Linked DNA regions of Homo sapiens. The protein of the gene in region 7 purifies or fractionates together with the protein of the main gene of each other region. This does not show direct contact. Each region holds a gene or a part of one and is shown on either strand. Other genes may lie near its edges. The genes, in order: ATP6V1D, SLC25A4, CASKIN2, KDELR2, HSP90B1, NUP205 and SLC2A1.

Region 1 (3,500 bases), on a different chromosome or scaffold from region 7:
CTTTCTTTTGGCACTTGTATTTCCTTGCTTCATGTGATATTTAATTAAATCATATAGAATATTAAGTACATTTCATACGAAGAAGTAGAGCATTCTAGAGAGAGTCACCTGTTCACAGAGTGTCATCGTACTCTGGGCATCAGGCAGTATGATTTTCAAAGGGAATAAGGGGCATCAAGCTAGTGAAGTGAAGGTTGGTTAAAAGCTTCCTTTGTAGTTATATTTAGAATAGTATTCTTGTGGGAAACTGTATTTAGTAGCATGCTCCTATAGTGTTTGGGGAGTGAGATAGGCACTTCATGTTTACATTCAATGAAGATTAGTGAATTCATCTTTCCATATTTGTTATTATTCTGAATTATCTCCTTTTGGGGAATTTTATAGGGAAGATATTTTACTCTAATTAAAAATGTTGTCTGACTGGTCCTTTCAGGTTATGAACTGACTGGTTTAGCCAGAGGTGGGGAACAGTTGGCTAAATTAAAGAGGAATTATGCCAAAGCAGTGGAACTACTGGTGGAACTAGCTTCTCTGCAGGTAAGTAGCAAAAGACCTGGAGAACTCCTGTAGTTTGATTTGTAACAGTCAAGTGGAGGAGAGTCAGGTCTTGAGTCAGCATATACTGTGCTTTGTACTTTTAACTGTTCCCATGATCCTATGTAAAGCAAACATAATATTTTGATTTCTGAAGTGATGGCTTTTGTACCATTGTCCCTACTTTTTAAAATTTATGTATTTTTTATTTTTTTGAGATGGAGTTTTACTCTTGTTGCCCAGGCTGGAGTGCAATGGCGCGACCTCGGCTCACTGCAACCTCTGCCTCCTGGGTTCAAGTGATTCTTCTGCCTCAGCCTCCCAAGTAGCTGATTACAGACATGTGCCACCATGCCTGGCTAACTTTTGTATTTTTTGTAGAGACAGGGTTTTGCCATGTTTGTCAGGCTGGTCTCGAACTCCTGACTTCAGGTGATCCACCCGCCTCGGCCTCCCAAAGTGCTAGGATTACAGGCATGAGCCACTGCACCTGGCCCCTACTTTTAATTTAAAAATTTATTTATTTTTCGAAATGGGGTCTCACTGTGTCACCCAGGCTGGAGTGCAGTGGCATAATCCCAGCTCACTGCAACCTTAACCTCCTGGGCTTAAGTGATCCGCCCACCTCAGCCTCCTGAGTAGCTGGGACTATAGGCATGCCCCATCACACCTAGCTAATTTTTGTATTTTTTGTAGAGGTGGGGTTTCACCATGTCGTCCAGGCTGGTCTCGAACTCCTGGGCTCAAGTAATCAGCCCGCCTCATCCTTCCAAAGTGCTGGGATTATAGGTATGAGCCACCACACCCGGCCCCTGCTTCTTCTTGTTAACAAAATGTATGTGCTATGGTACACTCTTGTTTTTTTTGTTTGTTTGTTTGTTTTTTTCTTTGAGACAGAATCTTGCTCTGTTGCCCAGGCTGGAGTGCAGTGTTGCGATCTTGGCTAACTGCAGCCTGGATCTCCTGGGCTCAAGCAGTCTCCCGCCTCAGCCTCCCAAGTAGCTTGGACTACAAGTTTGTGCCACCTCGCCTGGATAATATTTTTGAATTTTTTAGTTGAGATGAGGTCTTGCTACGTTGCCCAGGCTGGTCTCAAACTCCTGGCCTCAAGAAATCCTGCCATCTCAGCCTCCCAAAGTGCTGGAATTATAAGTGTGAGCCACCTCACCCAGCCCAGTTTCACTCTTTGCTAAGTAAGAATAGCAAGTTGATACTAGATTTAAATGTAAATGTAAATAAACATCGTTTGTGCATGGAAGACCATTTTTTCCCCTATGTGGCCAGTTAGTATATATCTAGGTTATTAATGCTTGATTCTTTCTTGTCATTTTTATGTTGTTATTTAGGTGAGACTATAGTAAACAAATTATAATAGTGTCAACTCAAGTAAAGCCTGTTGAAGCAGAAATGATTTGATAAAGGTTTATTGAAAGCCAAATGTGAGGATTGACCCGGGAAGACACCAACAAAGTTGGGTGTGTTCTAGAGTCTGCTACAAGTTGGAAGGCTTTTATGGGAAAGTTTAGGAGAAGGGAGGACTCCTCATACCCAAGTTGTCCTTTTCATTGGCGAGTACAATACAGAGGTCACAATCATTGGCTACAGATTACAAATACAAGCTAAAATGTTCTACATGCAAGTAAATCATGAAGTAAAACTTCATGAATCAGAAACAAATCAGTGTCATTTTCAGCGTCAGTAGGTTGCATATTAATCAGTATGTCAGCAGTCTGAGAAACTTAAGATTTCCTTACTCAGGGACAGGATGTAAACCATGAATCATAAGATCCCTCAATCTGCCCAGGCAGGTTAATTTGGAAACCTACCAAATGTGACATGTAGGTTATCAATAGCATGGAAATAGTGTTAGCCCTATGGAAATCTCACAAGAATTTTGTTTTTGTTTTGTTATGAAGAGACAGGGTCTTACTCTGTCACCCAAGCTGGAGTACAGTGGCACAGTAATAGCTCACTGCAGCCTCAAACGATCCTCCCATCACAGATTACCAAGCAGCTGGGACTACAGGTGCATGCTACTACACCCAGCTAATTTTTAAAATTTATTTCTTGTAGAGGCAAGGTCTCATTGTGTTGCCCAGGCTGGTCTTGAACTCCCAACTTCAAGTGATTCTCCCACCTCAGCCTCCCAAAGTATTGGGGTTATAGGCGTGAGCCATGCGCCCAGCCTAAGAATTTTGTTTTTTAAGCATGCCAAAAAGAAGTTGTCTTGGTTCTCAAATGTTTTCTACAAGTGCAGTCTTAGTGGAGTCAAGTGATCAGGGAATGATTAGGAAGACTTTGTGCTTACATTATTAATTTGTTCTTATTTTAGACTTCTTTTGTTACTTTGGATGAAGCTATTAAGATAACCAACAGGCGTGTAAATGCCATTGAACATGGTGAGTATTAGGTACTGTGAGGTGCTTTGTCACTTGTCCATACCCTCCACTTGTCGTGAAACTGCTAGAATTCAGGGACTGTACTGAAGACTGAAAGATGAATAAGATGCTTCCCTTGCCCACAGTGCAAAGAGAGAAGTGTGTCCATAGTAAAAAAAAAAAGTGTTATGAAGTGTTCTGATAGAAGTACTTGTATGATCTGGGGGAGTTACACACATAGGAAAGTGGTGACTTAAAAATTATGGAATGTTTTCTTCATTTCCAGTTATTCATGCAGTTATTTAAGGGTAGGAATATTTCTCAAGATCCTTAGTGTTTTCTGTAGTTCTTTCTAATGGTTGAGTGATGCAACTTTTTGAGTACATTAAATATTTAACTTTAAATCAGTATAAGCCATTCTCCTTGATTTCTAAAAAATTTCCCATTTGATGCACTTATTTTCCATCTCTTTTATTTCACTATTTAAAAAATATGACTGCTTAGTGTTGATGGTACTTTTTGCTCAATAAACTTAGTTTTTATTAAAGAAACACTCAATTTTAGGTAAGAAAGCAAAATTTGAAGTAA
Region 2 (2,308 bases), on a different chromosome or scaffold from region 7:
TTTCTTTCAAAGCCTCCATCTCCTACCACTCCCTCCCCCCATTTCATTTCCCTTCTATTCCTTCTCAAGCAAGATGTATTGTCTTAAACAAATTGTCTAACAATGGAATTTCACCTTTTCTCCCCAACTGAAGCATCTTTCAGGGCAGGTTCCTATCTATTTTCCCTTCCACGGGGCCTAAGAGGTATTAAATACTAGCTTGATAAGTGATGCTATGGACTGAATGTTTGTGTCCCTTCAAAATTCATCTGTTGAAATCTTAACCCCCAAAGTGGTGGTGTTTGGAGGAGGGGCATTTGGGAGGTAATTGGGTCATGAGGGTAGGGCCCTCATGAATGGGATTAGTGAGCTTATAAAAGGGACTACAGAGAGCTCTGTCGCTCTTTCTGCCATGTAAGGATACAAGAAGTCCGTAGTTTATAACCCAGAAGAGGGCCCTCATCAGAACCTGACCACAGTGTCACCTTGATCTTGGACCTCCAGACTACAGAACTGAGAAATAAGTTTCTGTTGCTTATAAGCCATCAGTCTACAGTACCTTGTTATAGTAGCTTAAACTAAGACAACTGATTTTCTTTCTTTTTTTTTTTTTTGAGACAGAGTCTTGCCCTGTCGCTTAGGATGGATGTGGTGGCATGCCATCTCAGCTCACTGCAACCTCTGCCTCTCGGGTTCAAGTGATTCTGATGCCTCAGCCTCCTGAGTAGTTGGGATTACAGGTGTGCGCCACCACACCCAGCTAATTTTTTGTATTTTTATTAGAGATGGGGTTTCGCTCGGTTGGCCAGGCTGGTCTCAAACTCCTGGCCTGAAGTGATACGCCCACCTCTGCCTCCCAAAGTGCTGGGGTGACAGGTGTGAGCCACTGCACCTGGCCTTGATTTTCAATGAATACTCTCTACTTAACATAAAATTCTAGGTGTCACAGTTATCTAAAGGGATGAAAACAGAGCACTTCCTAATCATAGAAAATTCTCCAGATTGTGATTTAAAACTTTTAGCAGAATCTTAGAATTTCTAAAGACTGCAGGAAAGTGCCTAAGACAAGGCAGGATTATGAAAGCCATTATCACTTTCTAGCCTACAGTAATGCTGGATAAGATAGATAGAATATGACCTGCCTAAGTTTGAAAACCGGAACTTTAAGCATTGTACGTTCTCATATAATACATTCTCAATATAATATCTGGCATTTAGAAGCTTGGCTGCTGACTGATACATGAATCATGCTAGAAAATATGCATTTTTGATCTTTTAAAAATGCATTTTACAGTTAATAAGAGTTCAATAAAATAGAAAGCGTGCATTAAGTGGTCTTTATTGATGTTTCACATTCAGTTATTATCAATTCTTCAGTTAATTGTACAAGTATGATAAATTATTTTCTATTTGCTGTGGGAATTTAAATGTAAAATAAATACAAAATACATGTGTGGTTTAATGAACACTCAATGAAGCATCTCTTCTGAGGTATTCCTTTCAGTCTGGTTTTATCCCAGATCTTTTTACTTCCCCTAGGAATAGTCTATTAAACCACACAATGGATCTGTGAACTTGTAGATCAAGTTCACTGTAAATCTGTGAACTTGTGTTTTAATTACATTAGACATATTTTTTGATCTCATCATACAACACCAATACAAAAGCACCGCCCATGCCTCTCAGCACATTGGACCAGGCACCTTTGAAGAAGGCCTTGGCTCCTTCGTCTTTTGCAATCTTCCTCCAGCAGTCAACTGTCCCCGTGTACATAATATCGGCTGTGGAAACAAATGCTGGTGAGGGCTCCGTAACGCTGGAGGAAAGAGACTTTTCCCCTGAAACATATCTGTACACACTGTTACCAGTTTTATAAAATCAGGGTCATCTGGGCATGGAGTCCCAGCTCCATGCAACATCCCACTGGACATCTCCTTCCTTGCTTCACTGGCAGGCTGGGTCTCCTGTCATTCCTACTCCATTAGTTCAAGGTCAGTGAAGAACTGGGGCAATTAACCAAGTAATTCATGGACTGCCCAACTGCGAAACAAGAAGGGCGCAGTGGAGCAGGAGTATTATGCTACGCGGTTACCTTTTTTTATGGAGGACCGAACTGAGGCCGAGCCTCAGATGATCCTGCACGAGGTTATGCAGTCTAAATAAAAGGCTGTAACTATTCGTTGAAACATACGAAACTGCTAACATTGGACTGTTTTTGACTTTTAAAGTGGCAATTTCGTATGGTTCAACCTATAGAAGCCAAAACTTTCTCTGGCACAACAGATTGCTTCAGGCCATCTCTACCCAGCTAAACACCCCATCCCACTAA
Region 3 (3,500 bases), on a different chromosome or scaffold from region 7:
CCTGCTTGGGGTCCCTCACCGTGATGACATCCCCTGCCCGGACATTGAGAGCAGTGGGATCGTGGAGGTTCCAGAAATCCTTGAGCGCTCGGACCTTCAGGATCCCTGAGGCCTCTAAGAAAACGGGGTGGGGGACAGGTGTCATCTAAGGGTCCTTAGGGCATCTTCCCACCCCTCATGCCCTTGACAACCCTCCCCCAGGGACGTCCACTCCCCCTCCACATCCTGGTACCACTTGAGCGGCCCCAGGCCCCCTGGGCAGGGTATCCTCCCCCGCACTCACCCCGCAGTAGCTGCTTGATTTCCCGGCTGGCCTGGGAGGTGGTGAACTGATTCACTATGTCCAGCGCCGTCTGGTTATACGTATTCCGGATGTTCACGTCCACACCTCCCTGGGTGCACAGTGTCACATGAGCACACGCTAAGCACTTTGACACCCCTCACCCGATTCTCTCAGCTACCCGGGACATAGGTACTATTACCATTTTCCGATTTTACAGATGAGGACATAGAGGCTCAGGGACTCAGTCAAGGACAAGCTCAAGTTCACTCAGCTAGTAAGAGGCAGATCTGGGGTGCCAATCAGGTTGGTCTGCCCCCGATCCATCTGCACCGCCTCGGCACCATTCAGAAGGAAGTCAGGCCTCTTTCCTGACGCCCATGCAAAAACCACGCTGGAGTCCTCCGTCCCGTACCTCCCCAGCCAGTCAGGGGCACAGGGCAGAGGCTCCATGGACACCTGCGAGGGAGCAGGGGCCCATACCCACCTCCAGAAGCAGCCGCACCACCTCGGTCTTGCCATACAGTGCGGCCTCGTGGAGCGCCGTACCCGTCTTGGTCTGGCGGTTGATCTCGATCCCAGCTCTCAGGAGCTGCCTGCAGTGGACGGGGGGAGTCACGGGGGAGGTGGCGTAGGAGGGGGTGCTGACTGCTGGGGGCCTGGGAGATGGAGAGCCCGGGTGAAAAGGGCAGTGGGGGAGAGCACTGAGGGGCACCGATGGTCCCGCAGGCAGGTGATGAGGAAGCGAGGGGACCCCAAGGGTACCTGATGACTTCTCTGTGGCCATTCTTGGCAGCCAAGTGCAGGGGCGTGGTGTAGTTGGGGTCACACGGGTCTTTGGCCTCACCCTCCAGCAGTGCCACACATAAGTGGCTGTTCAGAAGCAGCTGGGCCACCTGCAGCACCCAGTGCCCAGTTAGAGCCTCCTCCTGAGACCCTGTAGATGTCCAGGACCCAGCACCCCAAGGCTGCAGGCCTCACCTTGAGTCGGCCAAATTCACAGGCCAGGTCCAGGGGCGTCTTCTTGGCCTTGTTGACCAGGCATGGGTTGGACTGATGCTGGAGGAGCATTTCTGACTGGGGTTGGGGGAGCCGAGTGAGGGGGCCTGGCCTGTCCGGCACCCCACCCTGCCCTGCGCCACGCCCCTGTGGGCAGCCTCACGTACCACCTCATAATGTCCATACTGTGCAGCCAGGTGCAGGGGGATCTGTCCGTCCAGCGAGGCGGCATTGACAGCCGCAGAGGCGCGCAGCAGCAGCCTCACAGGCTCCAGCCGGCCCTGCCAGGCTGCGTAGTGCAGCGGGCGCATGCCTGGCAGGAGGAAAGGGTTTCTGAGGGAGGTCCTGGGACGGCGTTGGGGGTGGAGAGGAACTGAGCAGAGTACGGAGCCAGCCCAGCTGGGAGGGCAGAGAGCCCACGGGGATGCAATGCTGGCTCTATCCAGGTGTGCTTAGGAAGAGGTTCGGCTCGACAGGGCTGAAGCCAGAGTCCTGCTGTGCCCACTGTGGATCATGATGACCCCAGGACAGCAACAACACCTCGCTGAGCCTCAACCTACTCATCTGAATAATGGGATGTTAGTACCACTCGCCTATGCAAGAAGGCTGTGAAGAGTAAACGGGGAAAAGCCACTTGCAAGCCCAGAGACGCTGTGCTAGCATCTATTAGCATTGCTACGTTGTCATAGGAGCAAGCTCTGGTCCCAGGGTCTGGGTAGGGCCCCTACCTGCCCAGGGTGGGGGTCGGGGGCACATGGGGGTCTCACCATTGCTGTCCTTGATGTCAACAGTGGCCTGAGCCTCTAGCAGCAAGGCTATGAGCTCCAGGCTGCCCCCCAAAGCAGCGTGGTGGAGGGCAGAGAATCTGATGTGGGAGGACACAAAGTTAGGGGTGTTGGTGGGCAGCCCCCACCCCCAAATCCTGGTCTTCCATACCCGAACCTATCCTGGGGGCTGGCAGGGATGGGTTACTGGCCCCCCCAACCCCAGCAGCCCTGCCGTGGGAGCGCAGTGGCTGAGCCACAGCATGAAAGGGCTCAGTGTCTGCACTGAGAGGCCCGTTTGTCTCGCCCCCCCGCCTCCCAGCTGGCCCAGGGGAGGGGGCCGTGGGAGCAGGAGCCTGAGGGCTCCTACCCTCCAGGGAGAAAAGGGGGCCCCAAAGGAATCTGACCCCAGGAGGCCCTGCGGAGAGGCACCAGGGCCCCTCCCCTCACTCAGGGCTAACTCCACGGGCGGGCGGGTGCCCCCTCCCTCCAGCCCAGGGACAGGGCCCACAGCTCGCAGCAAATACACTTCCAGGGCCAAGTCTGAGAGGGAAAGGGACCCTGGGCCTCAGGATCTTTCCCTCCAGCCCCACCCCTGGGGCTCTACTGCCCCCACCCAGCAGCTCTGCAGAGGGACAGGGGCTCCCACTCACCCATCAGCATCCTGGTAGTTCACGTTGAGCCTCTTTGTGGAGCCCAGGAGCTCTAGGGGTCAGGATAGGAGGTGTCAGGGCCATCAGATGACTGCCCTCACTCAGCATCCCTCCCCCCACCTGTCACAGCCCGGCTGACCTCTTGGCGTGCAGGAAAGCACCTGCCCCATGGCCTTCCGCCTGTCCCGTCCCTGTGGCTCCCCACCCTGGCCCACCGGCCCAGCAGCATGAGGGCAGTGAGGGCAGGATGCTGCTGCGGCAGTGGGCTGGCTTCCCCTCGCCCCAGTCCCGCTTGTTTATAGAGCCAAAGAGGGCGGGGGGTGGGACTGGCACGATGTGCCCTCAGTGGACAGGCCCACGGTGTGCATGGTTAGCATTCCTGCCTGAATGGGCCAGGCAGCGAGTCATGTTGTCCTACTGGGCCGAGGGGTGGGGAGAGAGAAGGAAAGAGGCACTAGGTATTCAAGGGCAGGCCACGATGCCCAGTCCTGGGGCATCCCAGAGGAAGGTGACATTAGACAGACCTCTACCCAACACTGGCTCTGCCAGGCACCAGCTGTGTGACTGTGACAAGTCATTTAACCTCCCATGCTCAGTGTCCTCAACTGTAAAATGAGCTGATCAGAACCTGCTCACGGGGGCTGTGAGTACAGTGCCTGACCTTGTCATATGCAAAGACAGGAGCTCTCAACATCTAGCCCTCCTGACATGTGGGCAAATACCATCCCGATGTTAGGGCGATGGTCCTCCAACAAGAGCTGGCACAGGGCCCATACTGTCCCCACTGGGATCTCCATGGGTGCT
Region 4 (3,282 bases), on a different chromosome or scaffold from region 7:
TGTAGATTCATAGAAAATTGAAGAGGGAAGAATAAACCTGGAGAGACAAGGTGATGAAAATTCAAAGAGGTAGAGGTGTCCAGGTTACCCAGCTTGTCACACTGGCAGTGCCTTGCCTCTTAAAGGTTGCTTAAGTTTCTGTGATTTATGCCAGGAGTCCTCAACCCCTGGGCCACTGACTGGTACTGGTTCATAGCCTGTTAGGAACCAGGCCACCCAGGAGGAGATGAGCCGTGGGTGAGCAAGTGAAGCTTCATTGTATTTATAGCTGCTCCCCATCACTCACATTACTGCCCAAGCTCCACCTCCTGTCAGATAACTGGCAGCATTCAATTCTCATAGGAGCATGAGCCCTATTGTGAACTGTGCATCTGAGGGATCTAGGTTGCATGCTCCTTATGAAAATCTAATGCCTGATGATCTGTCACTGTCTCCCATCACCCCCAGATAGGACCATCTAGTTGCAGGAAAACAAGCTCAGGGCTCCTACTGATTCTGCATTATGACGAGTTGTATAATTATTTCATTGTATATTATAGTAATAACAGAAGTAAAGTGCACAATGATTGCAATGTGCTTGAATCATCCCGAAACCATCCATCCACCCTGCTGGTCTGTGGAAAAATTGTCTTCTATGAAACCGATCACTGGTGTCAAAAAGGCTGGGACCACTGGGTTATGCAGTTGCCAAGCTGTTGTTCTATTTTGGGCCGACATGCCCCACTCCCCACTCATCTTAGGCTGCTTTGTGGTAAAGAAAGCAAGAGTGTTTCCTCTGAGCTCCTGGTGGGCAGTGGGTCGTGATGGAAGCTTGCCATTTCTCTTCCAGATCCTCTGGACCTTCTCCATCTACCTGGAGTCCGTGGCTATCCTTCCGCAGCTATTTATGATCAGCAAGACTGGGGAGGCCGAGACCATCACCACCCACTACCTGTTCTTCCTGGGCCTCTATCGTGCTTTGTATCTTGTCAACTGGATCTGGCGCTTCTACTTTGAGGGCTTCTTTGACCTCATTGCTGTGGTGGCCGGCGTAGTCCAGACCATCCTATACTGTGACTTCTTCTACTTGTACATTACAAAAGGTATGTTGGGTGCGACCTGCGTTGTTTCTAGAGTGACGTGTTCTTTTAGGAGTGCCCTTGCCCAGCACTCTTCTAATCTGGCACTCTCTCATAAACTGGCTCCAGAGAAACACTTTCATGATTGGCCAATAACATTCTGGATCAGGATGTTGTCTTTTTAAATATAAGAACCCTTTTTCTTTTGCAATAGCTTTTCCTAAAGTGACACATTTTCACTGTAAAAGATTCATCTGGTGTTTCAGTGAACATTAACACCAGATACCTCTCTATGCATACACAGACACATGACTTAAACTGTACATTGCTGTTCTATACACTGCTTTTATCCCCTCACATTTTTCATGTCACTAGAAATCTACATAATTTTCAGTAGCCACAGAGTGTTTCATTATGTGCATGTACCATAATTTATTTACCCAGCCCCCATTCATGGGTGGTCAGGCCGTTACTGGTTTGCTGTTAAAATCCAGTCATTAAATCAGCATCCTTGTGTATATGTGTTTTTGCATTTGTATGAACATAGGACGTGTGAACTTTACAAATATTTGATGAAAGCTATCATCCTTGTTCAGAAAAAAAAAAACATTTATGCCAGGTGCAGTGGCTCACGCCTGTAATCGAGCACTTTGGGAGGCCGAGGCGGGCGGATCATGAGGTCAGGAGATCGAGACCATCCTGGCTAACACGTGAAACCCCGTCTCTACTAAAAATACAAAAAACTTAGCCAGGCGTGGTGGTGGGCGCCTGTAGTCCCAGTTACTCGGGAGGCTGAGGCAGGAGAATGGTGTGAACCTGGGAGGCGGAGCTTGCAGTGAGCCCAGATCGCGCCACTGCACTCCAGCCTGGGTGACAGTGCGAGACTCTCTCTCTCAAAAAAAAAAAAAAAAAAGATATTTACGCAAATGCACCCAAATGCATGTATATAGTTTTGAGGGGTTCAGGAGCCCCTGAAACCCAACCACAGATCCCAGGCTAAAAATCCAGCTATACAATAAAATTCCTAATGGTGGAATTGCTAGGTAAAAAGCATATATAGGTCGGGTGCGATGGCTCACGCCTATAATCTCAGCACTTTGGGAGGCCGAGATGGGTGGATCGTCTGAGGTCAGGAGTTCAAGACTAGCCTGACCAACATGGCGAAACCCCATCTCTACTAAAAATACAAAATTAGCCGGGTGTGGTGGCACATGGCCTGTAATCCCAGCTACTTGGGGGGCTGAGGCAGGAAAATCTCTTGAACCCGGGAGGCAGAGGTTGCAGTGAGCTGATATCACGCCATTGCACTCCAGCCTAGGGAACAAGAGCAAAACTCTGTCTCAAAAAAAAAAAAAAAAAAGAAAAAAAAGAGCATATATGTCTTATCTCTTTCCTTTTGTTTTTTTTGAGACCGAGTCTCTCTCACCCAGGCTAGAATGCAGTGGCTTGCTCTCAGCTCACTGCAACCTCTGCCTCCCAAGTTCAAGCGAGTCTGCTGTCTCAGCCTCCCGAGTAGCTGAGATTACAGTCGCGCACTACCATGCCTGGCTAATTTTGTTTTGTTTTGTTTTGTTTTGAGACTGAGTCTTGCTCTGTCACACAGGCTGGAGTGCAGTGGCGCAATCTCGGCTCACTGCAACCTCCACCTTGCAGCTTCAAGTGATTCTCGTGCCTTGACCACCCTAGTAACTGGGATTACAGGTGCGCACCACCACGCCCGGCTAATTTTTGTATTTTTAATAGAGACGGGGTTTCACCTTGTTGGCCAGGCTGGTCTTGAACTCCCAACCTCGTGATCCGCACACCTCAGCCTCCCAAAGTATTGGGATTACAGGCGTGAGCCACCACGCCTAGCTTTTTTTTTTTTTTTTTTTTTTTTTTTTTTTTTTTTTTTTTTGAGACAGAGTTTTGCTCTTGTTGCCCAGGCTGGAGTGCAATGGTACAATCTTGGCTCACCGCAACCTCCACCTCCTGTGTTCAAGCGATTCTCCTGCCTCAGCCTCCTGAGTAGCTGGGATTACAGGCATGCACCACCACGCCCAGCTAATTTTTGTATTTTTAGTAGAGATGGAGTTTCTCTATGTTGGTCAGGCTGGTCTCGAACTCCCGACCTCAGGTGATCCTCCTGCCTCAGCCTCCCCAAGTGCTGGGATTACAAGCATGAGCCACTGTGCCCAGCCTAATTTTTGTATTTTTATTAGAGATGGTGTTTCACCATGTTGGC
Region 5 (3,500 bases), on a different chromosome or scaffold from region 7:
GCCCCTTACCCAATCTTTGTTTTGGAGATAATACCAGCTTCAATACAAAGAGTAAAATTGCCTTAAATGTCTACCACTGTCTACTATAAGGTAGACAACAAGTTTACGAAGGGATTTCTCCTACATTTGATTGAGAAAGAAAAGGTCTTTGACTCATGATTTTCTGATTTTATTGTATTTGATATGTAAATGGGAATTTTCTTAATGTGTTATGCATAGTCTTTACTTTTGCATTGGATTATATGCTTAGCCTAATATCTGAATTTATTTTACATTTTTAAATGTAATAGCTGCACGAGGTTAATGACAACATTCCTCAAGTGAGTTAAGTCCATTTCAAATCACGTCCCCCACACCCCCAAGCATTAAATTATGGGTATCCAGATAGAATGTCTCATAAAGTAGACGGTACAGGACCTGTGAATTAACAGTATTTGAACTCAAGGGCCTATACCTGGAGGTATAGTGAGTCTTTGGTACTCTTTATTTTCAAGAAATATAGTATTTCAAGTTTATGTTTTAATGTCACAGCAATGATCTTGAAAATGACTTCTCCCCTACTTTTATTCTCTCTTCTTTCACCTGGAGTATGTTTCTGATATGCTATCTAGTCATCATCCTTTTTTCCCAAGGCCTAGCTTAAGGATTCTTTTTTTTTTTCCCCCGAGACAGAGTCTTGCTCTGTCACCCAGGCTGGAGTACAGTGGCGCAATCTCTGCTCACTGCAACCTCCGCCTCCTGGGTTCAAGTAATTCTCCTGTCTTAGCCTCCTGAGTAGCTGGGATTACAGGCACCTGTCAGCACACCCGCTAATTTTTGTATTTTTAGTAGAGACGGTGTTTCACCATGTTGGCCAGGCTGGTCTCGAACTCCTGACCTCATGATCCGCCCTCTGCGGCCTCCCAAAGTGCTGGGATTACAGGCGTGGGCCACTGCGCCTGGCCAGGATTATTATTCTTAAAGCCTTTTCTCACAAATGTAGTCTCCATTGTTGTCACAATTCTAAAATTCCATATATGTCTTTTAACTATAAATTTCATGCAGAGAATAGTGTTCTGTTTATCTGATATCCCATTGCAATAGTACAAGGGCCATTTAAAACATGTCCACCTATTAATTTCAGGAAATGATTAATAGGAAGTTACCTTGCATCCAACAAACATGAAGACTTACTATGTCCATGCACTGATGGTCACAGGTAGACATAACTCCTGTCTTTTCTAACATTTAGACTAGTGAAAATGACAAATCAAAGCCAGGCATGGTGACTCACTCCTGTTGTCACTCAGGAGGCTGATGCAGGAGTATCAGTTGATTCCAAGAGTTCGAGGCTGTAGTGTGCTGTAATGGCATTGCACTCTAGCTCTAGCCTGGGTAACATAGCCAGACTCCGTCTCTTTTTTATTTAAAAAAGAGGAAAAAAAGCAAGTCATAATCCGAGCCCTACATAGATAATGGGTACACCAGGATAGGGAAGGATGTGGTTCCTCCCTGTCCTCAGAGCTTTAAACTAGAGAAGAGAGAATAATCACAACCAACAGTAAAAAGCTAAGGATTTTGAAGGTATATTCAAAATGCATTTGGAACTGAGCTCAGATAAAGTTAATTTTTCTTGGAATCATTGGCGAAGGCATCGTGGAGAAGGTATTATTATTGGAGCACAATCCAGAGGCTACATAGATTTTTCTGAACTTGGGGAGGCAGAGCTACAATTACGGTAGTAAGAATAAACTAAGAGGGAACAAACAGGACATTAAATCAGTTCGTCTGTTCAGCAGTGCTCCAGGTACTTGGGACTCATCAGTAAATAAAATAGTTCCCTTCATTTCATTTTTCATCTAACCGTGTCCACTTGCTCCCCACCCCACCTCCCCGTTAAAAGGGAGCAATACAGGCTGGGCACATGGCTCACGTGTGTAATCTCAACACTTTGGGAGGCTGAGGTGAGAGGATCACTTGAGGCCAAGAGTTCAAGACTAGCCTGTGCAATATAGTGATACCCTGTCTCTATAAAAACTAAATAAGGAAACAGTGCAGTCATCCCTTTTTGTCCATGGGGTGTTGGTTCCAGAACATCCCATGGATACCAAAATCCACACATAGTCAAGTCCCTTAGGTAAAGTCGTGCCGTATTTGCATATAACCTATGCACATCTTCCCATGTACTTTAAATAATCTATAGATTACTTTTAATACCTAATGCAATTTAAGTGCTATGTAAATAGCTATTATACTGTATTGGGTTTTTTATTTTTTTCTTGTTTTGCCCTTTCTAATATTTTCAATCCGAGGTTGATTGACTCTGCAGATAAAGTAGACTGGAAAAGTACAGTCGTCCTTAGGTGTATGAGGGAGATTGGTTCTAGGACCCCTGCCAAAATCCACAAATATTCTAGTCCCCCAGTCTGCCCTGTGGAACCCGTGTATATGAAGAGTGGGAGCTCTGTGTGTGTGGATTCCACATCCCAAGAATACGGTATTTTCTATCTGAGTTTGGTTGCTGAACCTGCACATACGGAGGGCGGACTGTATTTATTGGAAAAAAAATAGCATATAAGTTCAAACCTGTGGTGTTCAAGTGTCAATAGTACATTTTGATTTTTTTTTTTTACCAAGAGTTGTTCTGTGTAATTATGAAAGAATAAGGGAAACGTATGAACCCTAAAATTGGATATGTTTTGTTAATGTTCATTTTTATCTCTTAACAGTTACTATGCGAGTCAGAAGAAAACATTTGAAATTAATCCCAGACACCCGCTGATCAGAGACATGCTTCGACGAATTAAGGTAGTATTAAAGCAGTCCTCTTGCTTGTCTTTTAATTTGAGTACTTTGTATCTTTTAATATTAATCTAGTGCATCTTCTTGCATTTCAGGAAGATGAAGATGATAAAACAGTTTTGGATCTTGCTGTGGTTTTGTTTGAAACAGCAACGCTTCGGTCAGGGTATCTTTTACCAGACACTAAAGCATATGGAGATAGAATAGAAAGAATGCTTCGCCTCAGTTTGAACATTGACCCTGATGCAAAGGTTTGTATCCCCAACCTTCCCGCAAAGGCTGGCTGGCTTTCTTTGTTTCTGTTCTTTCAGAATAGGCCTCTCATGATTGAGGGATGTAGCTTTGCGACATTTGCCTAATTTCTACCTTTTGAAAGAATTTTATTGAATGTTTGAATCCCTGTAGTGTCAGGCACTGCACTAGAAACTAAGTCCTCCTTTTACGTCCTCTTTCCTTTTTGCCTGCCTCCTTTTGTTAGCTTGGCTGTTCATTCTAGTTAAGAGGATTTAGTCTGTGGTTCTGAATAAACAGAAGTGACATTAATTATGATTTTATACATATAAATGAGCAAAGTGGAAATAAATCCAAGGCATTAATGGGCCCATAAATGTTGTGTTTAGGTGGAAGAAGAGCCCGAAGAAGAACCTGAAGAGACAGCAGAAGACACAACAGAAGACACAGAGCAAGACGAAGATGAAGAAATGGATGTGGGAACAGAT
Region 6 (3,500 bases), on a different chromosome or scaffold from region 7:
CAGCTACTCAGGAGGCTGAAGCAGGAGAATCGCTTGAACCCAGGAGGCAGAGGTTTCCCAGATTGCGCCACTGCCCTCCAGCCTGGGCAACAAGAGTGAAACTCTGTCTCAAAAAGAAACACAAAAGTCTTTGTTATTCCATGATATGGATGAAACACTTATCTGCCATTTTCCTTATTCACAGGCATTTCAATTGTTTCTAAATTTTTATTACAAAAATGCTACATCAACTTTTTTTATATGCCTATATTTCTCAAAAAGGATACTGCTTAATGGTGGAATTTCCATGTGTAAAAGTATGTACTTTTATTTTAAAAAGATTCAAATGAATGACCTTCTCCAGTATAAACTCATCAATAGTATACATGTATCTTTTTGTACTAGTGAGGTTTTGTTTGGATAAATTCCAAGAAGTGGAATTTCTTGGTCAAAAGTTAGGCACATTTAAAATATTGCTAAATGCTGCTTTCTAAAAAGTTAGCATTTTTAATTGAAACTAATCTTAAGACATGAAAATGTTATTAAGTGTTCAACACATCAGTATATAATGCTTTATATACTTTATAGACATTTGATGTTCAATCAAGTTATTCAGAGTTATTCTGCCATTTGTTAAGAAGTTGTCAGAGCACCTTCTGATAATGGATTTTCTTTGGGCTCTTCACCTTTGTGAGTGTTATTTTGTATACACTGTTAAAAACCACTGTGTACGTAAGGTTGACTTGATCTCATTATCCTTATGGTGGTTGTATTTTATGCCATACATAGTACCCTATAAGGTAGTAATAGCCAAATGGTAGATTTATAGGCATGTAGCACCCACATAAATAATGCATGAGAATATTTGTAAGATGAGGAAAAATAACAGAATAGTTTAGAGAAGTTTTTTAAGCAAACATGAGCTTCTTTTAAGAAAAGAGATAGTAATGGGATTTCTCCACTCAGCACCTCCCACATTTTTCTTTTGTGTGTGTGTTTTTCTTAACATTCCATTTAGTTGAATTGGCCAAGTCACCACTTAACCACTAGGTGGGGCTCTACAATAGGCTTTTTATAAGAAGTCATCAAGATGCCAATTTAAAAACTGCTGCTATGTAGCAGTTGGAAAAAATGAGATTAGTTTCCAATACAAGTTATTGCTTTATTTAATGTACTTGTGAAATTTTTAAAGAGTCTCACATAAGAGTATGTTTGTGGGTCTTACATAAAATGTATGATCATACTGTTCCTAATCATTGTATAATGGTTGTGCTTTTATTTTTATAATAGGTGTGCTTTTATTTTTAATAAGTATTTCAACTAAAAAAAAGAATAAAAATATCTGATTTTTTTGGAGGCAAATTTTTGTCTACATTGTACCTGATCCTTTCTAGCTAAATTTTCTTTTCTTTTCTTTTGTTTTTTGAGACAGAGCTTCACTCTGTAGCCCAAGCTGGAGTACAGCGGTGCGATCTCAGCTCACTGCAACCTCCACCTCCTGGGTTCAAGTGATTCTCCTGCCTCAGCCTCCCCAGTAACTGGGATTATAGGTGTGCACCACCACGCCCCACTAATTTTTTGTATTTTTAGTAGAGACGGGGTTTCACCATGTTGGCCAGGCTGGTTTTGAACTCCTGTCCTCAAGTGATCCACCGCCTCGGCCTCCCAAAGTGCTAGGATTACAGGTGTGAGCCACCACGCCTGGCAATTTTAAAAGATCTCAATAAAAGATAAAAGATTGATTAGCGGCTGGGCACGGTGGCTCACACCTGTAATCCCAGCACTTTGGGAGGCCAAGGCAGGCAGATCACGAGGTCAGGAGATCAAGACCATCCTGGCCAACATGATGAAACCCCATCTGTACTAAAAATACAAAAATTAGCTGGGCATGGTGGCATGCACCTGTAGTCCCAGCTACTGGGGAGGCTGAGGCAGGAGAATCGCTTGAACCTGGGAGGTGGAGGCTGCAGTGAGCCAAGATCATGCCACTGCACTCCAGCCTGGAGACAGAGCCAGGCTCTGTCTCAAAAAAAAAAAGAAGGAAAAAAAAAAAGACTGATGAGCAGGATAAATACAGGACGTTGGTTCTCATGGAGTCTTGTAATTCATTTTGATCTCTTTCAGAATGATTTATCCTTTTCCAGGTACAATTATTATCTTAGTGTTATGAAACATGCATGAAATAGGTGCATTGTGTTATTAGAGTTAACCTGCTTGGACCCACCGGTCAGTGGGCCTTTGTGTACAAGCAGTGATGGAAGGATTTTTTTGTTGCGTTTTTTTTTTTTCTTCCTTAGCTCATACCTAGCATGTGAGGTATAATTACTCAGTTATTACACTGCTTTTTACTGGAGTGTTTTTTTCTGTTTTAATCCTTTTAGCCAAGAAAACCATGTGGGAAAGGCTGACAGCCCCTGAAGATGTATTTAGCAAATTACAGCGAGAAAACATAGCCATTATTGAAAGTTATGGCGCCGCCCTCATGGAAGTGGTCTGTCGAGATGCTTGTGATGGTCATGAGATTGGAAGGGTAAAGCAACTCTTATTTAGTATTATAATTGAATAAGTATTTTGACTTATTAAGGTATAAACTGATTCACGGCTGGGTGTGGTGCCTCATGCCTGTAATCTCAGTGCTTTCGAAGGCCAAGGTGGGTGGATTTCTTGAGTATAGGAGTTTGAGACTAGCCTGGGCAACATGGTGAAACCCCGTCTCTACAAAAAATACAAAAAATTAGCCAGCCATGGTGGCATGCACCTGTAGTCCCAGTTACTTGGGAGGCTGAGGTGGGAAAATTGCATGAGCCCAGGAGGCAGAGGTTGCTTGCGGTGAGCTGTGATCGAGGCACTTCACTCCAGCCTGGGCTGCAGAGTGAGACCCTGCTGCAAAAAATAAAATAAAATAAATTGATTCAACTTTTAATAATGTATGGTACATATTAAGAATCATTTTTTATAATATACTGTATTTTCTTATTTGCTATAATTTGAGACTTCTGTTTTATTTATTCATATGTTGTGTTTAATTTTGTTAGAATCTTAATTCAGAATTGCCTTTCAGAATTATCTTCTTGCTAATTTTGAGGTTGACTGGTAGAAACAACAGAAACGCTGCTTAATAAAGATCTTTGGTTAAGAGAATGCTGAATAAATTGCCTTGTACTGAATAGATCTTTGTCTGCCTAATTGCTTTGTGGAGAATTTGTATTTATATTTCTTGTACAGTATGGTGGCACACTGGTAATGATGCAGTGAGAAGATAACTTCTTCTTAATGGAAAATTATGTAGCAAAATTATGTAGCAATTAAATCATGTTTTTGAAGACCATAGGAAATAGGATTTTAAAAAATAAACTGGCATAACCTTTTAGTTACGTTTCTTTGTTTGTTTGTTTGTTTGTTTTTGAGATGGAGTCTCGCTCTGTCGCCCCGGCTAGAGTGTAGTGGCGCAATCTCGGCTCACTGCAAGCTCCGCCTCCCGAGTTCACGCCATTCTCCTGCCTCAGCCTCCCAAGTAGCTG
Region 7 (3,500 bases):
GAAGTAGGACAGACTCGGAGGCAGAATCGAGAGGACCTGGTGATGGATGGATGTGGGGTGGTGGCAGCATCAAGTGTTTAAATCCTAAGCTTGGGACGGGCATGTGAGGTGGGAGCGTTCAGAACAGGCACGTGCCAGGTCTCACCTCACACATGACCCAGGGTTGCGGAGGCTGCTGGGAGCCGGCGGGATTGGGCCTGTGGGATCCTGTCAGGGCATAATAAGTAGACTCTTCTTTCCTGAGGTGCACCCAGACACTTCTAGGGAGGATGTGACCCCAGAGCTTTTCCCCATGTAGGGTTCTTCTCATTCTCCAGCATCCCCCTGCCTTTCCTGGGCCAAGAGTCAGCGTGGAACCCCATACGAATCCCCAGGGAGGAGAGGGCACAGAGCACCGGAACCAGCAGTAGGAATTGGAAAACCAGGCGTGGCTTCTTCCCAGAAATCTCAGGCATCAAGAGGCAGAAACCCACTCCCCAGCCTCAGCTTGGCCAGGAAGTGCTGCTGTGGGCTGGAGAGGATGGGTCTAGGCCAAGGTGAACATGCAGAGAGCTGGCTGCTCACCCTTCCTCCACCCCATAAAGTGGTCTGAGTAACAGAGCAGCTAGGCAGCGTCCAGGAGCCAGCCCTGGACAAGGTTGGGTCCCTTTGACTGTGTGACCACAGGCAGGAGACGTAACTCAGGGTGGAGCTCTGGTCACACCTCACTTACACACAGCCCTCTTGTCAGTTGCCCCAACATCTCAAGAGATCTTCAAGCTTATTTAGGTAGTTTCAAGCCTTACTTAGCACCTATTTACTCTTTCTTTGTATACAATTCAAACAAATTCCATTTGCTGACTTCTTGGCAAATTTCAAAAGAGGTGTGGAGAGTTGTACAAGACAAGCCTCTGAACCACAGAGGGTTGGGGGAATACCTTAGAACTATGGAATGCAGAAATTTAGCCATCAGGAGCCAGTCTGCACAGGGACAAACACCTCTCCTTGCCCCTGGAGAGAGCCCCAAGGGCAGACACCATTGCCCTGCAGCCCTGCTTGTAGGTCTGGTTGCTCAGGAGAGCAAAGTGAAATCTCTTCACATTTTCACCCCATAATGGGTCAGGAAAGATTGGACCCTCAGAAGGGCAAGCGCCATTTATCTGGACCGTTCCCATATCCACCCTCATTCAGAGCAGCCTGTTCTTGGTGGAGCCTGATAAACGGGGCATTACCGTTCCCAACCAGTCCTCCTCTGGGGTTAGTTTCGTCCACAGAAGAACACTTTGCATTTTGTTACTCTGTTTTTTGTCAAAATCTGCCTTCTGTCTGCCCCCAGCAGAATCAAGGGGTTCTAAGAGGAGAGCCTAACACCTTTGGTTCGATTCCTCCATTTCCTCACCAGGTATCCCTGGCACTGGCTCTGGGACAGACCATGGTGTGAATCAACTGTCTTCCTCAGGGAAGACAAACTCCTGGAGTCAGGGAAACCTGGATCTCGAAAGGTTTCAGCAATAAGGCCAGGGGTACCTTCCAGGCAGGAGTAGTAGCATCTCAAAGGCGTAGAGGGGTGGGAGATGGTGTGTAGTGAGTGCAAAGGTGTGGTAGGTAGGGAGATTGGATTGATACCTGGCAGGAGCCCCGATTTTGAGTTACGGGTTGAAGGCTTGGGGAGACTCTGTTAGTGGTCTGCACAGCCTTCAGGCCACCAGTGTGCAGTGGGGTGATTTTAGGGATGATGACACCAAGCACTGTTTCACTGATTCCCTGCAGCACTGTGAAGCAGCTCCTGCTAATGTCTGCACTTTAGAAATGGGGCCATGGAAACTCACAGATGAAATAACTTGCTCATGGTCACACTGGAAATAAGGGGTGGAGCTAGGACCTGAATTTAGTTGTGTCCAGAATCAGAGTTCAGGTTTCTATTCACTGCCCTGCATGGCGTCCTTGGAACGGACAAGCAGATCCTTAGGGCTTGCCTCTGCCCTACCAACTGTCCTCGCCCCTTGGAGCCTGGCCTCCATCAGATGCCTGCTGACTTGGGACAGGTTGTGACAGGGCAGGGGAAAAGATGGCTAGAGGCTGAGCACCCACAGCAATGGGAAGGAAGGCACCAGGAGGCAGGCCCAGCATATTTGAATAGGTGGGCATTTCTGGGACTGCAGGCTTTGGTTTGGCAAGTGTGCCTGCCCACACCTTCTTCTTCTGCTAGACCTCAGTGGGTTGGAAGGGATAGGGAGGACCAACAGCAGTGATGGAGGCTGCAGAGGCTGCATACCGCTGTGTGTGCATGAACCTGTGGCATGCACACACACGGAGGGGTGTTGGGATGGGTTGGGTTCACATGGAATTGAGTTTGAGCTGTAAGTGGTAGGGGATGAGGGGCATGTGAGTTTGTGACTGGCTAAAGCAGGAATATTTAGATTCTATGAGCACGGGTATGTGTGTGTGATGGTATACGTGCATAAGAAGCCGTTTCTGGGTAACTAGGGCCTGCACTCTGCTATACGTGTGGCTGGGTGGGTCTGGCCAGTCCCATGGCACTGAGAGTGTGGTGAGTGTGCTCAGGCAGAACGGGTGCTGCCTGCCTACCACATCCGTGGGAGCTGGCCAGGGTGGGGGCAGGGCTGGTGGGCAGGGCTGCCCTAGGACGGGCGTTTCCAGTTCCTGGAACTGCTTCCTTGTGTGGAACCTTTCCCCATACCTCCTAGCTGGGCCCTTGGGAGAGGGGAGGAGGCCGTGGGTCCTTCAAGGGGGTGCTCGCAGGCCAGACACAAGGGAGCTAGGCCTGGGGAACAGAAAGCCACAGCGTGAGTCTTTCAAGCACTTCTGAAGGGTGACATGTGTGAGTTTGTCACACCAGGCCCTCAGTGCGGTCAGGGAGTCTGTACTTCCTGGATGGCGGAACCTGTCTGTCAAGCCCTGCTTCCTCCCCAGCAAGGGGTTGGGGGGAGGGCCTGATGGCAGGAGATGGGCCCCTGGGGCTTTGAGACATGGTGAGGAGAAAAGGGGCAAGTGGGAAGACCCTTTTCCTTCTGTATTTCTCTTTTTTTTTTTTTTTTTTTGAGACATAGAGTCTCACTCTGTCACTCAGGCTGAAGTGCAGTGGCACAGTCTTGGCTCACTGCAAACTCCGTGTCCTGGGTTTAAGCAATTCTGCCTTAGCCTCCCGTGTAGCTGGGATTACATGCTTGCGCCACCACGTCCAGCTAATTTTTTTTTTATTTTTAGTAGAGATAGGGTTTCACCATGTTGGTCTGGCTGGTCTCGAACTCCTGATCTCCAGTGATCTGCTTGCCTTGATCTCCCAAAGTGCTGGGATTACAGGCGTGAGCCACCACACCTGGTCTTGTACCTCTCTGTTCTATGCCTGAACTTCCACCACTGATCACTTGCCATCATCCCAGCAAGTCACACTGAGCCTGTGAAACCACAGGGCACTGGAAACCACACGTTAGGGGAAGTGGGAGAGTTGGCGGGGCTCTCAGATGAACTCCAACCCCTTGTTTCTCGCCTGGGGAAAG

Evidence for each region.
Region 1: the proteins of SLC2A1 (region 7) and ATP6V1D purify together in Homo sapiens (affinity purification with mass spectrometry; one large-scale study listed by BioGRID and IntAct). This does not show direct contact.
Region 2: the proteins of SLC2A1 (region 7) and SLC25A4 purify together in Homo sapiens (affinity purification with mass spectrometry; one large-scale study listed by BioGRID and IntAct). This does not show direct contact.
Region 3: the proteins of SLC2A1 (region 7) and CASKIN2 purify together in Homo sapiens (affinity purification with mass spectrometry; one large-scale study listed by BioGRID and IntAct). This does not show direct contact.
Region 4: the proteins of SLC2A1 (region 7) and KDELR2 purify together in Homo sapiens (affinity purification with mass spectrometry; one large-scale study listed by BioGRID and IntAct). This does not show direct contact.
Region 5: the proteins of SLC2A1 (region 7) and HSP90B1 purify together in Homo sapiens (affinity purification with mass spectrometry; one large-scale study listed by BioGRID and IntAct). This does not show direct contact.
Region 6: the proteins of SLC2A1 (region 7) and NUP205 purify together in Homo sapiens (affinity purification with mass spectrometry; 2 studies listed by BioGRID and IntAct, with this or other methods). This does not show direct contact.

Annotation. Positions count from the first base shown.
Region 1 is NC_000014.9:67,342,805-67,346,304, reverse strand, and holds part of ATP6V1D (V-type proton ATPase subunit D), read left to right. Parts: intron 1-433; coding exon 434-537; intron 538-2,866; coding exon 2,867-2,933; intron 2,934-3,500. UniProt on the Homo sapiens protein: Subunit of the V1 complex of vacuolar(H+)-ATPase (V-ATPase), a multisubunit enzyme composed of a peripheral complex (V1) that hydrolyzes ATP and a membrane integral complex (V0) that translocates protons.
Region 2 is NC_000004.12:185,146,266-185,148,573, reverse strand, and holds part of SLC25A4 (ADP/ATP translocase 1), read right to left. Parts: intron 1,761-2,308; coding exon 1,603-1,760; 3' UTR 1-1,602. UniProt on the Homo sapiens protein: ADP:ATP antiporter that mediates import of ADP into the mitochondrial matrix for ATP synthesis, and export of ATP out to fuel the cell.
Region 3 is NC_000017.11:75,505,538-75,509,037, forward strand, and holds part of CASKIN2 (caskin-2), read right to left. Parts: intron 2,749-3,500; coding exon 2,697-2,748; intron 2,145-2,696; coding exon 2,047-2,144; intron 1,593-2,046; coding exon 1,447-1,592; intron 1,358-1,446; coding exon 1,262-1,357; intron 1,177-1,261; coding exon 1,046-1,176; intron 877-1,045; coding exon 768-876; intron 393-767; coding exon 284-392; intron 115-283; coding exon 20-114; intron 1-19.
Region 4 is NC_000007.14:6,463,871-6,467,152, reverse strand, and holds part of KDELR2 (ER lumen protein-retaining receptor 2), read left to right. Parts: intron 1-829; coding exon 830-1,082; intron 1,083-3,282. UniProt on the Homo sapiens protein: Membrane receptor that binds the K-D-E-L sequence motif in the C-terminal part of endoplasmic reticulum resident proteins and maintains their localization in that compartment by participating to their vesicle-mediated recycling back from the Golgi.
Region 5 is NC_000012.12:103,943,910-103,947,409, forward strand, and holds part of HSP90B1 (endoplasmin precursor), read left to right. Parts: intron 1-2,708; coding exon 2,709-2,787; intron 2,788-2,876; coding exon 2,877-3,032; intron 3,033-3,401; coding exon 3,402-3,500.
Region 6 is NC_000007.14:135,620,417-135,623,916, forward strand, and holds part of NUP205 (nuclear pore complex protein Nup205), read left to right. Parts: intron 1-2,360; coding exon 2,361-2,509; intron 2,510-3,500. UniProt on the Homo sapiens protein: Plays a role in the nuclear pore complex (NPC) assembly and/or maintenance. May anchor NUP62 and other nucleoporins, but not NUP153 and TPR, to the NPC.
Region 7 is NC_000001.11:42,931,369-42,934,868, reverse strand, and holds part of SLC2A1 (solute carrier family 2, facilitated glucose transporter member 1), read left to right. Parts: intron 1-3,500. UniProt on the Homo sapiens protein: Facilitative glucose transporter, which is responsible for constitutive or basal glucose uptake. Has a very broad substrate specificity; can transport a wide range of aldoses including both pentoses and hexoses.